2 separate regions of the Homo sapiens genome follow, and region 2 is linked to region 1. The links come from fine-mapping of genetic effects on gene expression. Tissue or cell type: aorta. Region 1 holds a variant in brackets; the other region holds the start of a gene. All regions are shown on one strand. Distances are between the middles of the regions.

Evidence for each region. PIP is the estimated chance that this variant, and not a neighbour inherited with it, causes the effect.
Region 2: CYBRD1 starts here. The variant in region 1 is fine-mapped to the expression of CYBRD1 in aorta (GTEx, PIP above 0.99). The same link has a PIP of 0.9 or more in fibroblasts.

What each region holds. Positions count from the first base shown.
Region 1 is chr2:171,549,396-171,552,306 of GRCh38, forward strand. All of the region lies in intron 2 of CYBRD1 (cytochrome b reductase 1), which reads left to right. Among named protein-coding and RNA genes, the nearest start is that of CYBRD1, 28 kb to the left of the region's middle. The variant AAT/A (reference allele first, on the strand shown) is at 1,468.
Region 2 is chr2:171,521,102-171,524,012 of GRCh38, forward strand. It overlaps CYBRD1 (cytochrome b reductase 1), which reads left to right and starts at 1,373. Exons shown (of 4, transcript NM_024843.4): 1 at 1,373-1,637. The coding sequence starts at 1,445. RefSeq lists an enhancer at 1,462-1,571 and silencers at 1,682-1,791, 1,942-2,011.

The DNA.
Region 1 (2,911 bases):
TTAAAAGTAAACTTTTATTGTCTATTTCTAATTATAAAAGTAATACACATTAATGTTAAAGTTTATAAGATGTAGAAAGATATAAAGAAAAAACCCTGGCTATTCTGGGCACACTGCCTGTGGGGTATTCCTGTTCCACAAGGAGTAGAACCTCTGCTGCTGCTACAAATTAAATAAAAAAACAAAAAATGAAAAAACCCACTGATACTGCCATAATCTAGAGATATCATTAGCTTTTGGCTTATTCCCTTTAGGCTTTTATTATGCCTATGCAAATGTAGATATAGATATTTAATTTTTAAACATAATTGGGTCATACTGTATTTTCACTTTCATCTCTAAGTAATAACTTTTTATGAAAGTTTATTTTTCCTTAGCTCTTAAGAACTTCCACTGTGTTGAAGAACAGCTTCCTGTAGGTGATGATTCCTAAACACTGGGGCACTTTGTTTGCATATAGTTGGCATTTAGTGTGTTTGTAGACTATATATAATGGAATATTCCACTACCTTCTCTTTTGAGGGTTTTCCAGACTGTTTATCCATATCTCTAGAATAATTTGAGTGAATCAACAGCAGTCATTTTCAAACTTCAACATACGTAAGAATCGTCTGGGCAGTTTGTTAAAAATACAGATTCCTGGGCCCTAATCCAGAAATTGGATTTAGCAGGTCAGAATGTGGCCCAGGCATCTTTTTATTTTTTATTTTTTTGTTGTTGTTGTTTTTGTTCTTGAGACAGAGCTTTGCTCTGTCACCCAGGCTGAAGTGCACAATGTCAGCTCACTGCAACCTCCGCCATCCGGGTTCAAGCAATTCTCTTGCTTCAGCCTCCAGAGTAGCTGGGACTACAGGCATGTGCCACCATGCCTGGCTAGTTTTTGTATTTTTAGTAGAGATGGGGTTTTGACATGTTGGCCAGGCTGGTCTTAAAATCCTGATCTCAAGTGATCCTCCTGCCTCGGCCTCCCAAAGTGCTGGGATTACAGCAGGCATCCCTTTAAATGCATGCCTTCTGTGAACAGCACTTCCAGTACTGACTTAGAGAGACAAAAGGTCTTATAATTTTCGGTCCACTAGGTTATAAATTATCACCTTCACTTGTAAGGTAGTAAGATTAAGATAGTTAAAAGGAAATAATGATTATTTATAAATTATAAGTTATTATAAATTATAAATATGCATTATTGCAGCATTCAGAACACTTTTAATCAAAGTTAAGCATTCTGTAATGTTTTTCTTTTCCTTTTAAATGTAATTTTCTTTTGTTGCAAAAAATGTTTAATGGTGAAAGTCAGATTTAGGGTAGTTAAGTTGCTCAGGGATCCTGTAAGCAAATTTCTGACCTCCTACCTGCTTAGACTGTTGAGCCCTACAGGATTGTAAGAGACACACATGACAAATTATGGAGGAAATGAGAGAAAACAGAAAGAATCTTAGGAATGAAAATAGGAGAGCAGGAATGAGA[AAT/A]ATATGTTTCTATGGGTAAGCCACAGAAAAGATATGATGATTTATGGAGATATATTTGTGCTATATCCCTGAGCCCCATTTTCTTTTCCTTTCTTTTCTTTTTTCTTTCTTAGACAGGGTCTCACTCTGTCACCCAGGCTGGAGTGCAATGGCACAATCTCAGCTCACTGCAACCTCCATCTCCAGGACTCAAGCAATCCTCCTGCCTCAGCATCCACAGTAGCTGGGACCACAGACGTGCACCACCATGCCCAGCTAATTTTTTGTAGAGATGGGGTTTCGCCATGTTGCCCGGGCTTGTCTTGAACTCCTGGACTCAAGTGATCTTCCCACCTTGGCCTCCCAAAGTGCTGGGATTACAGGCGTGAGGCACCACACTCAGCCCCCATTTTCATATAGAAAGCACAACATGGACATCAGGAAGCTTGCCCTTTGATACTAATAGAATCACTGAAGTTCACTGAAGAAGATTTAGGAATATTCTGAACCACCAAGAGGGAACCCTCTGAACCATTTCTAATATATTCAGGCATTTTGGTTATTAACTAAATAATAAAATATGCAAACCAACCTATCAAATGCATTTGTTATTACTTTTTAAATATAAATTACAGAATTTATTGTATTAGGATATACTTCAGAAAACAACAGTTAATCTTGGCTATTCTTGGCCCTTTGATCTATGTAAATTTTAGAATCAATGCATCAAATTCCACCAAAAATCTATTAGGATTTTATTTAATCTATAGATGAATTTGAGAACCGACATCTGTATAATACAAGTCTTCCAACTCATTATCCTGAGCCTGTTTTTTTAGCCTTCTCCAAAATATTGCAAAGCTTTATATTTTCTTTGTAGAGTTGTTGTCTCCAACTTATTGCTAGCTCCTTGCTATTAAAAATGGTATCATTAAAAATTAATTCACTTGTTGCCTCTTTACAAAAAGTGCAACTGATCTCAAGTATAAATTTATACCTAGCAAACTTGATAAACTTATGTTAGTAATTAATCTCAAGATTCTTTTGGATTGTGTTTTATAATCTTATGTGATTAATAAGTTTTGTTTCTTTTTCTATCATCATTTTTTTTTCTTGCTTAACTCAGTAGCTGAGACTTTCAGAAAAATGCTGAATAGGAATAGGTGATAAGGGATATAAGACAAATCCCTTCTAGATCTGAGTCATGTCTTGGAAGAGAGCTACTCTGAAATGCCTATAGACCATAAGCAGACTGTGTGTGAGCAAGAAATATACTTTTATATGTTAAGCTCTTGAAAATGGAGCCTGTTAGTTCCTATAGCATGTTCTGTCCTAATATAATCAGATTAAAATAATCATCTTCCATTCCTAGTTTGTTAAAACATCTCATACATGACTGTTGAATCCTACCAATGTTTTTCACCATCTGTTTTGATGATTATATGATTTTTCCTCTGCAGTCT
Region 2 (2,911 bases), 28 kb before region 1:
ACTTAAAACAAAAAATTATAAATTTGAAAAAAGAGGAGACTTTATTTCTTATAAAAGGTTATAGCCTGCAAGGAGGCCATTCCATAGGCTGATAAACATAGCCTCTGGCCTAAGACCAGAGACAGGCACTTGGAAGGCAGAGGGGTTGGGGTAGGAGCTTTATGCTGAACAGTTTGGCCAAACATACATACGTAACAGGTTACAGGAGGAGCTATGAATATTAATGGAGGTGGTCCTTACACATGCATATTGAACAAACATGCATGTAACATGTTCTCTTTGGGGTGGAGACTTAACATTTAATTGTATTACTTCAAATACATTTAAATGTATTACTTCAAACCTACACTTCAAAAGGTCTTTTCAGGACGTGAATGCATACAAGTGCACAATCCCTGTACACTGGCCAGAACCGGTCCATGGTCGGTCTTCTTATCATGAAAAAGTTCCTGAAATCAGCCCAGTGAAAGCTGTAGTTCTGGCTGGTGCAACAGGGGTTCAGCTGGTCAGCATCTGTGAACTGATTAAGTTGTAATTGTTTTAATATTGCTTATCTCAAGCCAGTGCTTGTTTAGCCTCTAGAGGAAAAGAAAACCTTTGTGGCAGTTAGACCATAGTTTATTTCTTAAGTGTAGGAGTGTGTGACTTAGGTCCTTTTTATAATTTGATGTCTTATTGCTACAAAGAGTCTGTTCTGTCCGCCTTATGATTTCTATTTTAAACATTAATGCTAGTCAGCTGTTGAGTCTAAATTCCAAAATGGAGGGGGTAGACTTCCCTTCCGGCTGTAGCTAGAAACTCAGCTTTAAGGTTTTTCTGGGGTCTGCTTGGCCAAGGAGGTCCATTCAGTCAGTGAGGGGCTTAGGATTTTATTTTTAGTTTACACCACCTTACAGGTTCCTCCTTAACACCCTTTGATGTCAGAGACAGCCAATTCTCCAGCACTGTGGCTAAGGAGGCTTCGTTAGTAGTTAAAAGCACACACATAACCCTACCCAACGGATCCCTCTCTTCTCTTAACCAAGAGGGCGCACCACTGCCCTACTCAACCTCCCCACAAATAAGGACGAGACACGGGAAGTGTTAAAAGCAAGTGGTGAGTATAAAATCCTCGGAATTTTCTCTTTGAGCAACTAACTAGGTCTGTTACTGAAGCCCTCTGCGAGCTTGGATGCTGGACGAGGGAGAGGGTGAGGCCACCAGGCAATGAGCGCCCTCGGCGGCCGCGTGATCCCGGGGGTGGGGCCCATTTCTGAGTTGGGGCCAGCTCCCCACCCCCAAGAGGCCCCACATTCCGGGCCAGCAGCCCAGAAAGTCCCTCCCCGCAGGCGGAGACAGCCCCAAGAAGTCGACGCCCCGGTCCCGCCGCCCGGCCACTACCCAGAGGGCTGCCGCCGCCTCTCCAAGTTCTTGTGGCCCCCGCGGTGCGGAGTATGGGGCGCTGATGGCCATGGAGGGCTACTGGCGCTTCCTGGCGCTGCTGGGGTCGGCACTGCTCGTCGGCTTCCTGTCGGTGATCTTCGCCCTCGTCTGGGTCCTCCACTACCGAGAGGGGCTTGGCTGGGATGGGAGCGCACTAGAGTTTAACTGGCACCCAGTGCTCATGGTCACCGGCTTCGTCTTCATCCAGGGCATCGGTACTGGCACCTCCTGGGGGGGTGCGGGGAGGAAAGCGGGGAGAACGGCGGGGGCAGAGGGTCCTCCGTGAAGCCCCTTCCAGCTGAGGAAGTGCTGGAGGATCGCGGGGCCCGGAGGAGTGCGGTGAGGAGCGCGCGGGAAGCCAAGTCGGCTGGGCGGGAGGGAGGCTGGCTGGCTCTGGGGCGGGACAGAGCTGCGGTTCAGGAGGATCGCCGCGAGCGCGGGGCCGGGGGTGCGCGGTGGAGACGCGCTGCTGGGGGCGGCGGAGCGGGGCCGGCCCCACTTGGTTAACTCTTTGCGGCGACTGGCTAGGACGCACTGGAGGGGCCTCCAAGACCCAGAAACTTGAGCCCGGGCGCGATGCCGGAGCGCCGCGCAGTCGGGCCGCTGCAGCCCACGCGCCCCGGAAAGTCGCCCCTGTGGACCGAGCCTGCGCGATCGGGGGCGCGGAAACACTTTCGCCTCAGCCTTTTGCTGAACTTGCTTCCAGGCTGCAGATGAGGAGGGGAAGGCAGCGGGGAAAAGATTGCCGGAGCGAGAATTTGCCCGTATTTGTAACATCCTCGGCCCTGGGTAAAGGGGCTGGCCAAGGGGGGCGAGTGAAGCATCCGCCCTGGGTTCCTCTCCTCCTAGAGTGTTAAACTCAGTCGAGTCCGGGAAGCTGCCAGGACTTCCAAGTGTGTTTCGCCGCCCTGCCCAGTCATTGGACGGTCTTGAGCCCGACTTGTTTATGTGGCAGAAGAGTGGCGAAAGTTCCCCCGCGGGGCTTCCTATTGGGCACTGGCCCAGCACTCCGGGTGGGAGATGCCCGGAGAGGGCCCGCGGCTGCCTGGCACCGAGGGATGCCTCTGCTCGGGATGCCCCCGGCGCAAGCTGCGTCCGTGTTTGGCCCGCGGCGAGCCAGCCCCGGGCCTGCATTCTCTGGGCTGAGGCTGGCGCGGGGGAGGGGCTCAGCAGTCGCTGGCAATGTTTGTTGTCATTGTGTAGTGCCTCTCAATGTCCTGACTGCTTCCTTCGGTTTGCCGTGTAGCTGGAGGAACCTCTAGCTTTTGGCGCAAACACCATTTATTTGTAACCACTTCCCCAAAGGCACGGCCTTCAGAAAGTAGTTAGAGAAAGGCAGCAAGGGGTGGAGTGGTGTTATGTCGCAGAAAATAATCGAGAGGAGTAGCAAGGGTTTGGAAAGATATGCCCACTGGCCGAAATCTCTAGCTTTGCCTGCGGGCAGGCTGCCTTTTCTTCACCAAATATTTAACTCCCCACAAACGAGTGT